Regions from separate parts of the Homo sapiens genome. Here region 1 is linked to region 2. The links come from fine-mapping of genetic effects on gene expression. A gene starts in region 2. The other region holds a variant in brackets. All regions are shown on one strand. Distances are from middle to middle. Region 1 has its middle 28 kb from the start of ADRA2C. Region 2 holds the start of ADRA2C (adrenoceptor alpha 2C).

Region 1 (8,323 bases), 28 kb before region 2:
ACCCACATGAGTTACTCTCGGAGCCTGTAAGGCGAGATGGCGTGAAGGACGATGTCGCTAACCTGCCCACGACAGAGTAGGTCCCCACACCAGGGAGGCCACACTCCTCATTCATCTTCACATCCCGAGATCTCCACTGGGCAGGCAACCGGCCCGCCGTGTATGAGGCCCTGCTGGCGGGGATGGGAAGCGGGGACCCAAAGACCTGGGCAGTCACAGGCAAAACGGGGGCTCCTGTGCAAGAGGGAGGACACGGGGGGTTCCCCGTGGGAAAGGGGCAGCCCCAGAAGATGTAGCCTTCTTGGCAGCAGGGACCACACACGGCCTGACTCAAGCCAGTCAAGATTTTGTAACGGGGTCTGGGGACCAGGATGGGCCCAGGCACAGCAGGACCCAACGACATGAGAAGGGGCCCGTATCTCTGTCCAAGTCCAGGCTGGAGGCTGCTGCCAGGCACGTCTTACAGTCGCTGCGTCTGCCCAGCTTAGCAGTCCAGGGGAGAGGAAAGTGCCCAGCCCTGTGGCCCTAGAAATGTGTCCCGGGGAAGCGTCTGATGGGCTCCTCTGGGGCAATCCCCGTGGCTGGGGAGTGGGCTCACCTAGGTCAGGTGCCCACCCAGAGACCTGGGCAGACTGGACCGTGGGATCAGGCATAGTCAGATGACAGCAAAAGCAGAGGTCTGTTGCCAGAAAGGAGGGAAGGGCATAAAGTGGGATGGCCCCAAGGAAGGTGCCCCTGAGGTCCCATCAGCCACCCCGGAGACGAGAGACGCTCATTCCCCGTGTGTGTGTGAAGGCGCGTGGTGTGGGGTGCGGGAGACTGTGTAACAGGCATTGCAGTGTGGAGGTTTCACCCAGTCGTTTTCATAAAACTTGGCTTAAACCCTTGGCCCCAATTCCCACCCCCTTGATGGAGGCAAAGGCTGTGGCTTGGAAAGACGACATCACCATGGTGCTTAGTGGGGCAAACCCAGTTTTATAGACAGTATTGAGGTGGCCTTGAGCACCCTATGTACCAGGCAGTGCCCTCTCACCCTGGAGGACGCAGCTAGACCCCCAGGCTCTAGGGGAGAAGGCCCATCCCATGGGCCAGGTGGGGCAGAGGCGAGGCTGTCAGGAGACGCGGCACAGGGATGGGCCTGGAGCTCTGGAGGAGTGCGAGGGCCTAGCAGCGGCTGTGACCTGGGGACGAGGTTGTGACTGTGGCAGCTGGCTCTTCCCAGGGGCTGGGTGGCCCAGGAGCTCAGTCGGTTGCCCGTGAATGTGGCCCAGTGCACACCTGGCCCCAGGTTCCATGTGAGGAGGCCCCAGCAGGAGGGGACAAGACGGTCTTGGGCTCAGCCCCATGAAGCTTACGTTCTAGTGCAGGAGAGCGATGGAAGCCAGAGGAGCCGGTGGGCAAACGAACAGAATCCCAAAAAGCTGTGGGTCCAACCACAGACCCAGCTCCACCTCCCACGTCCCTCCACAGCGTCCAGGCTGGGGGTGTCCTCGGTCCTGGGACCATGCCTGGCCCTACTAGGCCTGGCCCTGAGATGCCTTGACATTCAAAAATCAGCCAGGAGTGTGTGGATGGTGATGACTGTGTAAGTATCACTCAGGGTGAGGCCAGGCCTGCCGTGACGTCTTCTCCCACAATCCCTGGGAATTTGAGGGTAACTGCAGAGCAAGTGGGTTATTTTTTTGTTTGTTTGAGACAAGGTCTCGCTCTGTCGCCCAGGCTGGAGTGCAGTGGCATGATCTTGGCTCACTGCAGCCTCAAGCTCCTGGGCTCAAGCAATCCTCCTGCCTCAGCCTCCTGAGTAGCTAGGACCACAGGCATGGTCCAGGGTTTCGCCATGTTGCCCAAGCTGGTCTCAAACTCCTGGGCTCAAAAGATCTGCCTGCCTCTGCCTCCCAAAGTGCTGGGATTCCAGGCGTGAGCCACCGCCCCCAGCCAAATGGGTTCTTTACTCATTCTCCACTCATTGTTCCAGATCATATCACATTTCAGTCTTTCCCCAAGTCTCCTGTGTGATTTCTTGTTTTCGTGGAGATTTAATGACCCAATTTTTATATGTATGCCTTTATTTATCATTATTTTTCTCCCTCAAAATCGTTGTTTCTCCATCATAACATCCATTCTGTCCCACCCCCTGCTGCCCAGAAGCCTCCCCGCATCCCCTGGTGTCTGTTCCAGTGTGGACTGGTTGTCCCCAGGTCTGCTCCACTATTCCCGACCTTCCCTTCCCTCCACACAGAGCTGGATCTACAGAGTCATAGTGCCTGTGTTTCCCTTTCTTTGTTTTGCCACCTGCTCCTGCTGGAGCACATCCTCAAGTAACTTCCTAGCAACAAGGGTATGAAAAACAAATACGTGTGCTCTGGCATTTGTGAAAATGTTTTTATTCTGTCCTCTCACTTGATAAACCATTTGACTGTGTATAGAATGCCAGGTCGAACATTACTTGCCTCAGAACCGAGAAAGCATCTTCTCCCCAGACTCCAGTGTTGCCAGTGAGATCTAGAAAGTCAATTAGTTGGGTGTGGTGGTGCGTGCCTGTAGTCCCAGCTACTCTGGAGGCTGAGGCAGGAAGATGGCTTGAACCCGGGAGGCAGAGGTTGCAGTGAGCCGAGATCGAGCCACTGCACTCCAGCCTGGTGACAGTGAGACTCTGTCTCAAAAAAAAAAAGTCCTTCTGATTCTGCTCCCTTTGTGGCTCACCTGTTTTCTTTTCCTGGAAATTTGGAAGCCATCCATGGAGATTGGAAATTCAGCAACGATGCCTCTGGCTATGGGCTATTTTCCTCCCACCATCCAGGGAAGGCCACAGGAAATGGAAGAAATCGTGACACTGGTGCTGTACCATCTGTTCTGTGAATTCCCTGGCCATCGTCTCCCTCTGTTTCCTGTGTTTCTTATTGGGACTCTGTCTGTCCGATATTAGGTCCTCTGGTTTGGTCCTTTACTTTTGTTTTAATCTAAATTCTGGTGGATGTTCTCGACTTTATTTTCCATATTCTCTGCTGAAGTTTGTATTTTGGCAATTGTATTTCAACCTCCCAGTGTTCTTTCTTGTTCTCTCATTGTTTCTATTTGTGTCTTCCTATGATTGTGATATTTTCATGAGTCCTCTGAGCACTTTCATTAGAAGTTCTTGTTTTTAAGCTTAATGTGCTGGGACTTGTTTCAAGAGCCCCTGCTTCCCCTGAGGTCCATGCTGCCGTTTCAGGCTGTTGGAGGGATGCTGGGCAGGGGCAGGCGGGAGCAACCTCTGCTCTTGTCTGAGTAGCTCTTCTTTCCCCTGGGGTAGGACAAGGTGTCACCTGGAAGCTCCGCTTTGAGGGAATGGCAAAGCGGCCACCTCTCCCGCTTGGTGTCCCAGGAGCTGGAAGGAGACAGGCCTTTGGGGGGCCTGCTGGTATCCACAGGCAGTTC[T/A]TTTGAGTTGCTTGGAGAATAATCTAATTTACTTCCTGGGGTATAAGCTTCCTGTCTTCACTCCAAGTGAGGAATTGGGGGTGAGGGGCAGTTGTCCCCTCCAGCCCCTCCTCTCACACCTGCCTTTGGCTGTCCCTGGGCTCTGAGTCCGGAGCCCACCCTGCTTCACCCCTGCGGCCACTCGTGGAGACGCCAGGCTGTGGGTTTCTCTTCCGTTCACCGAGAGTCCACTCCCATTCCTTTCCATGGTCCAGAAACTGGTTGGCGTCTCTCACTGCTTGGCACCTGTATCCCTCCCAAGCTCCTTCCTGGCATGAACCAGTTCTCACTTGTTCTTCTGTGGGGTCTCAGGAGGGGTGAGATGGGCACAGAGCCTGGTAATTCCACTGGGGTTTGGATAAGCCAGGAAGGGATACGATGAGACAGGCATTTTAGGGGGGCCTTTGGAGGCCGCTCAGAGGATGGGCTGGATAGGGGAGGCGCTCACAGTAAGGAGGGCAGGTAGGAGGTCACCACCGGCCCCAGGGCAGTGAGGATGAGGCTGACTGCGGCTTGAGAGGGCTGTCCCACGTGACACAGTGGAGGGGTGGACTGTGGCTTATTCATCTCCACTGAGGCAAGGCTGGGCATAGGACAGGCTGTGAGGACAGTGAGCGGAAAGGAGACAGGAAGGTGGGGCGTTTCTGGTGGGGTGAGGGTGGCACTCCTGCAGACCCTCAGTGGCTGCTACAGCAGAGAGCCGGGGAGGTGAGGTGGCCTGCTCCCTCGCCACCCACGGAGGAGTGGGCCCTGCTCATCCCTGGCTTTGCCCGTCCACTGGTGTGATTCACTGTCGCTTACCCTGGAGAGACGGCTGCCCCAGGTTTATTTATTTATTTATTTTTAAATTTTTTTATTTTATTTTATTTTTTGAGACAGAGTCTCGCTCTGTTGCCCAGACTGGAGTGCAGTGGCGTGATCTCGGCTCACTGCAAGCTCCGCCTCCTGGGTTCATGCCATTCTCCTGCCTCAGCCTTCCCAGTAGCTGGGACTACAGGTGCCCACCACCGCGCCCGGCTAATTATTTTTTATTTTTTAGTAGAGACGGGGTTTCACCATGTTAGCCAGGATGGTCTCGATCTCCTGACCTTGTGATCCGCTCACCTTGGCCTCCCAAAGTGCTGGGATTACAGGCATGAGCCACCGCGCCTGGCTAGGTTTAAACTGGACAGCTTCCCGGGGCCAGCCTACAAGCGGCGCCCACAGGGCCGGAGAGGCCATGAGATGATAAGATGCAACCTCTGCGTTTGTCAAAGAGAGCTCCGGGTGGGGTTGGAGAGGGACCTGGGTGAGCTGCTTGGCCTGGAGGTCAGGTCTTCCCTGGGGGAGGCCAGGGAGCTCTGCATGGCCTTGACCCCCTGCAAAGAGGGTAGGGGCGGCGTGGGGCTTTAGTTCTGCCCCGTGCAGTGGGCAAATTGGGCCCATGCTTGGGGTTATGGGGGAACTGTGTTATCCCAAAATTCATATTGAAGTCCCAACCCCAGGACCTCAGAGTGGGCCCTTATTTGGAAATAAGGTCGTTGGAGATGTCATGAGTTAAGATGAGGTCATGCTGGGATAGGGAAGCCCCTAATTCAATCTGGCTGATGTCCTTATAAAGGGGGAGATTTGGACACAGGCACGGAGGGAGAGTGCCGTGGGAGGAAGAAGGCAGGGGTCGGGGTGTCACTTCCTCAAGCCAAGGAGCGGCCGCGGCTGCTGGCGCCACCAGGAGCTGGGTAGAGGATGGGACCATTCTTCCCTCGCAGCCTCGAGGGGAGCCAGACCTGCCCACACCCTGACCCGGACTCCCGGCCTCCAGAGCTGGGAGAGGAGATCTTTCTGTTTCTGTTGTTTAGGCCCCAGTCTGTGGCACTCTTTATGGCAGCCCTGGGGATCTCATATGTTCGGGGTACAGAGAGGAGGCTTGGCTGCCTGGGGCTCCCTCTCTCCACCTGGCCCCACCAACAGCTGCAGTTCTGGGTCCAGCACAGCCTCATGCTCCCACCCTGGAGGCCTGACACCGAGGGTCGGGGGAATGAGGCCAGTCCTGACCTGGCCTGTGGCAGGTGCAGCTGTCCCGGGGCTGCGATGTGAGGTCCCAGGGACATGAGGCGAGGGCGTGGCCTGCAGCTGGCAGAGGCCCCTCCACAGCGCAGAGCTGAGATGACCTCGTCCAGCGCCACAAGGCCTTGGCGCCATCCCACCGGGCTGAGGTGCGTGGGCAGCACTCACCATGCTCCCCCTGAAACCACAGTCACAGACCAACTGTGGTGGCCCAGCTGCCTGGCCTCCTCCAGGGAGTCTTTGGGATTCCCTGGGCGGGGTGAGGCACCCCTGGGACTCCCATGGGCCTCTGTGGCCCTCTAGTCCCCGCCAGCTTGTCAGTTTCCCGTTAGTTGAGGATTCCCCTCTGGGAGCCACCTGTACCCCAGACCTGGGCACAGGTGGGCTCTGCAGGATCCCTGGATCCCAGGCTCCCTCAAGCTTCAGCAAAGAGACCTCCCTCCCTCAGCCTGGTCCTTGGGCCCTCCAGGACCTGGGGGAGTGGCCAGTCCCCAGTAGGGAGAGGAGGAGAACACAGCTATCTGGGCGAATGTGACAGCGGTTTGCCAGCAAGCCCACCCTGCCCACAGCACCCCTGCCCCGCTTTGCTGGAAGAAGGTGTGGCCTGGGTGTGGGAGGAACCTCCACCCCCAGAAACCCAGCACAGCAGCACTGCCAGACTGTGAAGGGCCCCACGCGCGTCCGGGGCCCTCTCCGTGAGAATCAGAGGTCACACAAGCCACAGCTGTAAACGCTCATCAAAGAGCACGATAGGCCACTCGACGAGTTCTGCCGCTAGTGACAGGGAGAGAGGCCAGTTCCGCCCCGATCAACCACGCTGGCCTACACCACTTCCGCCCTGATCAACCACGCTGGCCGAGGCCAGTTCCGCCGCCGATCAACCATGCTGGCCGAGGCCAGTTCAGCTGCCGATTAACCATGCTGGCCGGGGCCAGTTCCGCTGCTGATTAACCATGCTGGCCGTAATTTCATGACCTGTCACTTAGGATTTTTGTCCCTCAAAATGATCAAAGTGCCACGAACACGTGGGATGACAGCATCATCTGCACCACCCCATGCCGTGGAGGAAGAGCTGGGTTTGGGCATCAGGAGGTCCAAGTCTCTGCTATCATCCCTGTGCTGGGGTGGTCACCCATCCCCCAGGGCCATGTCACCTCACTCAGGAAATTGAGGTGATCAATGACTTTAGCAGAAGCTGGTTTTAGAGCAAAGTCCTTTGCAGGGTCCTGAGGGATGAAGCAGGGGAGGAGGGAACAGCTCCTGTTCTGTGGCTGGAGGTCCCAGGAGCACCACACACCTGGGCTCCCAGCCACTTGGAGGACAGGCTGGAGGGGGAGGCACCCGGGGTGAGAAGGGCAGGTGAGGGGTGGCAGGCCACTAATGACCCCAGGGCAATCAGGATAAGGCTGACCATGGCTTAAGAGGTGCTGTCCCATGTGACAGTGTGGAGGGGTGGACTGTGGCTTATTCACTGGAGGCTTTGAGAAACAGCCAGCACATCCCTGATGTGAGGCCGGTGGGTCTCCCTCAGCCGCAGTGTCACAGAGATCTCCCTGCTCTGCTGGCTAAGAGATTTCACGCCAGCTCACCTTGGAACTTGGCAAAAGGCCCAAGACAATGCCCAGATTCAGCTGTGTGGCATCTCGATCTCACCCACTTGAGCGCTTCTCCACCCCAGCAGGCCCGCTGCCATCAAGGGCTTACCCTGTGGGCTGCCCACGCTGCTGTAACCAGTGACCACAAGCTCCGTGGTGTTGAGAAGCACATGTTTCTCCTCCCACGGCTGTGTAGGTCCGGAGTCCTACGGGCTCAGCCAGTCCCCCTGCTCCAGGTTTAACCAGGCCGGAATCAAGATGCCAGGGCCTGGCTGTGCTTTGGAGGCTCTTGGTGAGAACCTGCTTCTGGCCTGGTGCAGGGTGTGGCAGAATCCCGATGCTTGAGTTTGAATGGTGAAATTTATGCTCCAGCGTGGCTGGGCCATGGTACTCAGATATTTATTTAGTCAAACCATATTCTAAATGTTGCTGTGAAGGTAATTTTTTTTCTTAAAGATTAAGATTTAAATCAGGCCATCTGCTTCACCTGATTGGATGTGGGAGGGCCTCATCTGATCAGGTGAAGGCTTTCAGAGAAAAGGCCACACTCCCTATGGAGGAAGAGAGGATTTCGGCAGCCGACGGACTCGGACTGGAGCTTCAGCACAACTCTTCCCAGCCTGCCAGCCTGCCAGCCTGCCGTGCGGATTTTGGACTTGACAGCCCCTGCAACCACACACACACACAGACACACACACACACACACACATACACATACACACACACACGACCTCTGGGTTCGGTTTATCTGGAGATAAACCGAATGATACACCATCCTAGGACTGAGGTCCCTATCCCTTGCTGATGGCCAGTGGGGCTGTCCCTAGCCCTGCAAGGCTCCCTGAATCCCCTATCACACTGTCCTTACATCTTCCAACCAGCAGTGGCAGGTGGAGTCTTTCCCACTCTTTGGATCTCTCTGACTTCTCCTACACTGCCCTGACTCCAGCCTGATGGAGTTCCCTGTTTCTAATGCCTTCTGTGCTTAGACCAGGCCCTCCCAGATAATCCAGGACAATCTCCCTGTCTTAACATCTCTGATTAGTAACTGTAATTACATCTACAAAATCCTTCTTGCAAAATTACATTATATGCAATGTGACGTTCACAGGTACCAGGGTATGGATAAATCTGGGGGACCCAATTTGGCTGCCACATTTGCCCTTGGTGAGCTTTATCCCCTTCCTCCCCCTTCACACCCCCAGAGCTCTCAGCTCCTCCAGTGC
Region 2 (8,323 bases):
CGTGGAGAGGAGGGCTGACCGCAGGAGCCAGGTGGAGCTGTGCAGACCAGGCAGGCGAGGCAGAACCCAGCCGCAGCCCCGGAAGAGCTGGCTGCAGCAGCAACCCAGAAATACATCTTCTCCTCAGCCTAGGAGGGTGGGCAAGGCCACAGGTGCCGCATATGTGTGTACACATCCATATATGCGAAGCCATGTGTGCACATGCATGACTGGTGTCATGCATAGGGACAGATGTGTGCAGCACAGGCATACACACGTGTGTGCAATGTGCATGGATTCGTGTTATCTGCACAGGGAAGGCTGTGCGTGCCCGCAGTATGCACAGGTGTGTGCACAGCATGGGTGCATCATTTCTACATATGCCAGTGTGATACATATGCATGTGTAGACATACGTGTGCAAAAAGCACGTGTGTATGATAGTGCATATGTATATATGCACCTGCATGTGAAGAGTACACGGGCATGTGTATGCACACGCAGGCATGTGTGCATGTGTGGGAACATGTATGTGTGCATACATGTGTGTATATTCTGTAGGCATGGATGCACTGTAAATCCACATGGTATATGTAGACAGTGTGTGTGTGGATGTGTGCATGCATGTGTGTGTGAAGGCATGCAAGTGTGCATGAATAGGTTGCATGCTTGCATGCATGTGTGGATATGTGTATGTATGGGTGTTCATGCTTGCATGAACACACGTGTATTCATGATATGTATATTCATGTGTGTGCATGGATCTATGTGTGCACAAGGATGTGTGTGGATACATATATGTGTGTGGACACTGTACATCTGCGTATGTGCATGCATGCCTGCATGTGCAGGGAGGGGGCTCAAGGAGCCAAACTCCCCTCCACCCGAGCTGAGGCTGCTCACGAAGCCTAGAGCGCGGCATCCCAGGCAGGCACCCAGCTCTCTCCGGCACAGCAGCCAGGGCCCAATGTCCCATGGCTGTATGGCCCTGCTGGACCAACCCTGTCCTCCTAGGCCCCACGCATCATGGGTGAGATACAGGCAGGTTCGCCTCTGCAGCTCCAGGACGTGCCACTTCTAGGTTCTCAGTTCTAGGAAACACCTGTAGGTTTCCCCTCTGAAATATGCCCACTTCTGCCATGTACTCCCCTGCACACGTACACACAGACAGCCCCCACAACCCCCGCCAGTGCAGCCTGACTCCCCCAGCACCCTCCTTCCTCGCCCCTCCTGGTCGTGCCAGCTCGCGTCGTGCCTCGTCAGGACAGGAAGTCTTGCTGGGTACGTGCTGTTCTGCTTGTTACGGACAATCCGGAGCAGTTCCTCAAGCCTAATTTCAAGGTCTGGGGGAAGAGTCCTCTCCAGCTTCCTTGCAAACAGCTGCGGTCCCGGGCCCTCCCACCACAGGCAGGCCTGCGTGCAATGCAACCCCTATGCATGGCCCAGGGCTTCGCTCCTCCTAATGACTCCAGGCCCCAGCTTTTTGCCCTTGGCTCCATCCAGGCCCTGGAGTGGACCCTTCTGACCCCTCCCTGGTCATGCCAGGAGGTGTTGCCAGCAGCATGTCAGCCTGTTGGCTGCCATCCCCAAGGGCCTGGGCCGCTCACTGGCCAGGCACTCCAGATGCCCTCAGCCTGGCCTGTGAGTGGCCCCTGCCTTCAGCCCTCCTGGGCAGTGGGAGGCTCATCTGGCTCAGGGCCCCAGGTGCTCCGTGTCCTTTTCCCTCCAAATTCCCGTGCCTGGGCTGCCATCTCTTGGGAACATAGGAGCCAGGATCCTAGATAGATCCCCATGCCCCTGCGCATCCCCCAAAGCACTTCTCAAAAAGAGAGCCCTTCAGGATGGGGGTGGGAGGCACGCTGATGCCGAGGGAGAGAGACCTTCTCCAAAGCCTGCATCTGGCCCCTGCCACTGCTCTTTCCTAGTCCTCCTGTCTCCCCACGCCCCCAGTACAAAGCCCACTCCCACTGGAAGAAGGACAGCCTACAGAGGCCTCCCCCTTCCTCATAACACCTCCTCACTCTCTAAGCACAGTTTGGTCACCTCCTCCAGGAAGGCTTCCTTGACAACCCCGCTCCCAGGCTGGGGGAGGAGCCCCAGGGCACTGATGGTTGTCAGCGCATTCACCTCAGTGGGTGGCCCCATCCACCCACAGATGGTGAGCACCTCAACTGAGGCCAGGCCCCCCTCACTCTCTGCCATCGCAGAGGGCTCAATAGAGACAAGGGCTCCAGCGGGCCGACCATGAAGGAAGCAGGTGTGTGTGGGCTTCCCTGAAAAATGCACCTCCAGGTGCCCTGGACAGGTGGCACCTTTTAGGCAACCAGAACCAGGAGGGCCTTTAGTAAGGATGGTGACCCTCCACCATCCCCAGGTCACACACCTCCCACAGGACAGCCATGGCCTGTTGCCTCCCCGAAGGGCATATGTGCCCTAGACTAGCACAGGACTGGCACAGAAGGCTTTGGCTCCAACGTGCGCCCCTGCTTGGCAGGCCCATCATCTGAAATATTTGCTTTCTGCCGGGCCCTGGCTCGGCCTCCACACCCCCAATGCAGGCCCTGCTGGTGACAAACATGGTGAAGAACGAAGCCGTAGCTCCTGGCAGTGTCTCTGCGGAGACAGACATGCTCCCCAGTAGGGCTGAGCAGCAGAGAACACGACAGGCTCTGAGGCTAAAGCTGGCGCCCTTCAGGAGCTCAGAGAGAAGCTGCCCCAGGCCACGGGCATGGATAGGCATCCCGGGGGTAGGGCAGTCACTCCAGCCGCTCTTCATGATGACCTCCCGGGCACTCAGAAGCGCCCCTTCCCCGCCGGTTCTAGCCACAGGATGGACAGACCTTCCCTCCCTCTCTCCTGCGGGCCCATGCAGGGAGAGGCCAGCCAGCTGGGGTTCGTTTCTGGACGTTTGGGAGAAGGGTCGTCCCTTCGGTCCTAGCAGAGAAACGTCAGGCCTGAGAACTCCAGCTCTCCTCCTGGATCACCTCGTCCCTGGAAGTCCCTCTCCCACAGACCCCAGGCTGCCTGGAGGCAGAAGCCAGCACCCAACATGGGCCACAGAGTGGCAGTGCACGTGGCAGTGCACATCTGCAGAATGGAGGTGCGCGGACGGGGGCGAGGGTGCACGGGGGCTACCTCAACGGCCGCTCTCCCCTGAGCCCACCCTTGCAAAAAGCTCCATCATCCAGGCAGCTCCGTTCTGGGTGTTTGTCAGAGGTGGTGACTTTGAACACCTCTCCATCCTTTAAAAGCAGGGCCTGAGAGCCTAAGGATTAAACTTCAATCACTGCTAACATGGGTGCAGAGCTTGGGAGCTTGCCCAGGGCTTCCACAGACACCGCCGTTAGTTATGATTCATGCTCCAGCAGCGCTGGGAAGTGGGCCGAGGGAACTGAGGCCGGGGTGGGTGCGGAGGTGGCTCTGACGGGGAGCGCCGATCCAGGATCTGGTCCGGACCCTGAGCTCGGCAGGACCTGTGCGCACGCAGGTAGCGTCGCGTCCTCCCCCAGGCTGCGAGAGGTTGCTCTGCCATCAGGCCATGGACCCCGAGCCGCCCGTGCTGCGCGCGCGCGTGTGCGCGCCCCCGCCTGCGCCCATGCCTGCGCCGGGGGAGGCGAAGGAGGCTCCAGTCTTAGAAAGAGCAGCTTCTGGAACTCACCACCCAGGCCGGCCGCCGCTCGGCCCCGTCCCGCAGGCTGCAGGCGGCCCTGGAGGGGGCGCCCTCGCCGAGCGCGCGCCCCGCGCCGCCGCCCCGGACTCCTCCCCGGCGCCGCGCGGGCAGGTTCGACCAGGCGGCCGCGGGCTCCGGTTCCCGGCCAGCTCCCCAGGGCCCGCGGCCCGCCCCGCCCCGCGCGCCCGCCCCGCTGCGCAACTCGACCCAAGTTGGAAGCCGATCGCAGGCGGCCGCACTCGCGCCCAGCGCAGGGCGGCGGCGGCGGCGGCGGCGCAGCTCCGGCGAGCGAGGCGGCGGCCGCACGGCCAAGCGTGGACCGCGGGGGGCGCCCGCGCCCGGGAGCAGCCGGAGGACTCGCGGCGGCGCCGGCGCCCCGCCCGGGAAAGTAAAGTTGGAGACGGAGGGAGCGCGCGGGCGCGGGGGCCCGGAGGAGCGGCGGCCGGCGCCCCGGCGCGCCGAGCCCTAGCCGGCCGGATGGGAGGCGGAGCGCCCGGGCCGCCGCCGCCTGTCGCCTGCGCCCCGGCTGGGCTCCGGGACCGCGGGGCCGCTCAGGCACGCCCGCTCGGGCGCCGCGTCGCCGTGGGCTCGACGCCGGGGCGCTCCCCGTGAGCCGGGCCGAGGGCGGGGCCGCGCGAGGACCCCGGGACCTGCCCCCCTCCCCCCGCAGCCGCGTCGCCGCTCGCTCCGGGCGCCTCCTGCTCTGCACTTACACGCTCGGCAGCTGCGGGGAGCCCGGCAGCCACGCTCTCCGGCGCGCCGCCCGCGGAGCCACCACGGCCGAGGGCCGGCTGCTGGGCGCCGCGGTCCCCGGCGGGCGCGCCCGAGCAGCAGGCGGCGATGCGGGCGCCGACCCCGGCTGGGGGGCGCCCGAGCTGCCGCGGCTGCGCCCCGGCTCCAGGAGGGACGGCGTAGCTCGCGGGAGGACCATGGCGTCCCCGGCGCTGGCGGCGGCGCTGGCGGTGGCGGCAGCGGCGGGCCCCAATGCGAGCGGCGCGGGCGAGAGGGGCAGCGGCGGGGTTGCCAATGCCTCGGGGGCTTCCTGGGGGCCGCCGCGCGGCCAGTACTCGGCGGGCGCGGTGGCAGGGCTGGCTGCCGTGGTGGGCTTCCTCATCGTCTTCACCGTGGTGGGCAACGTGCTGGTGGTGATCGCCGTGCTGACCAGCCGGGCGCTGCGCGCGCCACAGAACCTCTTCCTGGTGTCGCTGGCCTCGGCCGACATCCTGGTGGCCACGCTGGTCATGCCCTTCTCGTTGGCCAACGAGCTCATGGCCTACTGGTACTTCGGGCAGGTGTGGTGCGGCGTGTACCTGGCGCTCGATGTGCTGTTTTGCACCTCGTCGATCGTGCATCTGTGTGCCATCAGCCTGGACCGCTACTGGTCGGTGACGCAGGCCGTCGAGTACAACCTGAAGCGCACACCACGCCGCGTCAAGGCCACCATCGTGGCCGTGTGGCTCATCTCGGCCGTCATCTCCTTCCCGCCGCTGGTCTCGCTCTACCGCCAGCCCGACGGCGCCGCCTACCCGCAGTGCGGCCTCAACGACGAGACCTGGTACATCCTGTCCTCCTGCATCGGCTCCTTCTTCGCGCCCTGCCTCATCATGGGCCTGGTCTACGCGCGCATCTACCGAGTGGCCAAGCTGCGCACGCGCACGCTCAGCGAGAAGCGCGCCCCCGTGGGCCCCGACGGTGCGTCCCCGACTACCGAAAACGGGCTGGGCGCGGCGGCAGGCGCAGGCGAGAACGGGCACTGCGCGCCCCCGCCCGCCGACGTGGAGCCGGACGAGAGCAGCGCAGCGGCCGAGAGGCGGCGGCGCCGGGGCGCGTTGCGGCGGGGCGGGCGGCGGCGAGCGGGCGCGGAGGGGGGCGCGGGCGGTGCGGACGGGCAGGGGGCGGGGCCGGGGGCGGCTGAGTCGGGGGCGCTGACCGCCTCCAGGTCCCCGGGGCCCGGTGGCCGCCTGTCGCGCGCCAGCTCGCGCTCCGTCGAGTTCTTCCTGTCGCGCCGGCGCCGGGCGCGCAGCAGCGTGTGCCGCCGCAAGGTGGCCCAGGCGCGCGAGAAGCGCTTCACCTTTGTGCTGGCTGTGGTCATGGGCGTGTTCGTGCTCTGCTGGTTCCCCTTCTTCTTCAGCTACAGCCTGTACGGCATCTGCCGCGAGGCCTGCCAGGTGCCCGGCCCGCTCTTCAAGTTCTTCTTCTGGATCGGCTACTGCAACAGCTCGCTCAACCCGGTCATCTACACGGTCTTCAACCAGGATTTCCGGCGATCCTTTAAGCACATCCTCTTCCGACGGAGGAGAAGGGGCTTCAGGCAGTGACTCGCACCCGTCTGGGAATCCTGGACAGCTCCGCGCTCGGGGCTGGGCAGAAGGGGCGGCCCGGACGGGGGAGCTTTCCCAGAGACCCGGGGATGGATTGGCCTCCAGGGCGCAGGGGAGGGTGCGGCAGGGCAGGAGCTTGGCAGAGAGATAGCCGGGCTCCAGGGAGTGGGGAGGAGAGAGGGGGAGACCCCTTTGCCTTCCCCCCTCAGCAAGGGGCTGCTTCTGGGGCTCCCTGCCTGGATCCAGCTCTGGGAGCCCTGCCGAGGTGTGGCTGTGAGGTCAGGGTTTTAGAGAGCAGTGGCAGAGGTAGCCCCCTAAATGGGCAAGCAAGGAGCCCCCCAAAGACACTACCACTCCCCATCCCCGTCTGACCAAGGGCTGACTTCTCCAGGACCTAGTCGGGGGGTGGCTGCCAGGGGGCAAGGAGAAAGCACCGACAATCTTTGATTACTGAAAGTATTTAAATGTTTGCCAAAAACAACAGCCAAAACAACCAAACTATTTTCTAAATAAACCTTTGTAATCTAATGTTGGGTGCCGCAGTCAGTCCTTGAGCTTGGGGGCTGGGGGTATCTTCCAGACCCTCACCCTGCCTGACACCCTCCCCCATCTCCCCCACCCCACAATGCTGGACGGAGGGCACCCTGGGCCTCCGGGTTACAACTTCCTTCTTGCATGAGAAGGAGGGGTCTTGCTTTTTCTCAAGCTAACCCTTTATGTACATGGAAAATATGTACTCAAAATTCCTGTGCTGAGAGTAGCGAAGAGGTGAAAGGAGCCTAGAACCCCCAAGTTGACCCCAAGTTTAGATTCTGGGGGACTGTCTTCCCTGCATTCCCATCCCTGCCCCCTGCCCTTCCCCACTCTGATATTCAGGGCCTCCGGTGGAAAGAGGTGGGGCTCTTCCAGTCCAAGACTGAGAGTAGCTTTGAGCTAGTCCTCCTGGCTCTGAACATTTTGTGGGCGTGGCTCTTGGGTGGAGAGAGGGTGGGCGTGAGGCCGGCAAGCCCCCACACCATCACTCTTAGGCCAGAGGCCTGGCCAGAGCCAGGTTGAACAACAGGCACTTTCTTATTTCCGAAACAAACTGAAAGTCATTGAGGCCCCAGAGCAGTGGAGTGGAACAAACCAGCAATGTCTGGAGAGGGGCCTGGGGCCGGCCTGTTTCCTGTGGTGCCCCCAGGGTCTTCCCAGTGCAGCCCTGCCTTTCCCCCTTGCTCCACCGTCAGGCCCAGCAGGTGTCCACACTGTTCACACTGCTGCTTGAGGAAGGGCAGTGGAAAGTGGGGGACAGAATACCAAGGTGGGCTTCCTGGTGCTGGGCCTTCATGGTGTAGGGACCACTCAGACTCAGCCGTGTCACAGGGCCTGGAAGTTGCCAGGATGGCTGGAGGGGAGGGGCAAAAGCGGGACCTGCGCCTGGCAGGAGCTGGGCAGGGGTCCCCCCAACACACACGCACAGACAGCTCGGTAGGCGTGTGGGGGCTGTGTCAGGCCTCCTGCTTGTGACCATCCATTCCCCATTCCCGTCCCCCTTCCCATCCCTGGGAGGCCCCCCTGGGCTTCCCTATGTGTACCCTCCCCTGCCAGACCCTGCCTGCTGAGCCCAGCCCAGATCCATCCTGGATACCCACCTCTCTCTTTGGCATGGGGGGCCAGGGTCTGCCTGGGGAGGGGTCAGCCCTGGGTCCTGTGTTCTTCTGCAAGCCCCCGTCCGCGAAGTCAGGTTCCAGAGCAGGGGGACCTGACTTGCCAGAGTTGGCCCTTGGAGAACCCCCTCGCCGCAGCTGCCTGGCTTCCACCCCAGATGATGGGTCTTCAGGATACCCCAGCTGGGAAGAGCTCTCCCAGCCGTGTCCACAGCTGGCACATGTGCTAATGCTCACACCTGCTGTGTGCTAGTCTCAGACACAGGTGGGGAGATACAGACAGCAGTGGGGGCAGGGGAGGGGTGGAGAACATGGCCAGTCAAGGCCGATGAGGACATCCCTGACCTCCCCCGACCAGGCCTGGGCAGGGAGTCCTGAACTGTTGGCCCAGCTTGTCCTGGAGCTGTTGTACTGGCTCAGACAAATCCCTGCTCTCTGGGCCTCGGTGCCCCACCTGGGAAGTGGAGGGGGTCCTGGGAGCCCTCTTGGGCCCTGCCAGGCCTGCCAATCTGTTGGGCAATCTATCCCCTGAGCCTGGGACCACAGGAGACCCCACCTCAGAGACTCCATGGCTGACATCGCACCCAGGGACACTCTGAGGGCAGGCCTTGGGCTGCGAGAGAATCACTGTACACACATGAAAAAGACTCCAGAGCTCAGGATTTCTGCTCCAGAATCTGCATCTTACCAAGCCGGCAGGAGGGG

Evidence for each region. PIP is the estimated chance that this variant, and not a neighbour inherited with it, causes the effect.
Region 1: its variant is fine-mapped to the expression of ADRA2C in cerebellar hemisphere (GTEx, PIP above 0.99).

What each region holds. Positions count from the first base shown.
Region 1 is chr4:3,734,190-3,742,512 of GRCh38, forward strand. No RefSeq gene overlaps it. Among named protein-coding and RNA genes, the nearest start is that of ADRA2C, 28 kb to the right of the region's middle. The variant T/A (reference allele first, on the strand shown) is at 3,418.
Region 2 is chr4:3,762,030-3,770,352 of GRCh38, forward strand. It overlaps ADRA2C (adrenoceptor alpha 2C), which reads left to right and starts at 4,356. Exons shown (of 1, transcript NM_000683.4): 1 at 4,356-6,497. The coding sequence starts at 4,578. The coding sequence ends at 5,966. RefSeq lists enhancers at 1-28, 6,061-6,578, 6,771-7,456, 8,143-8,323.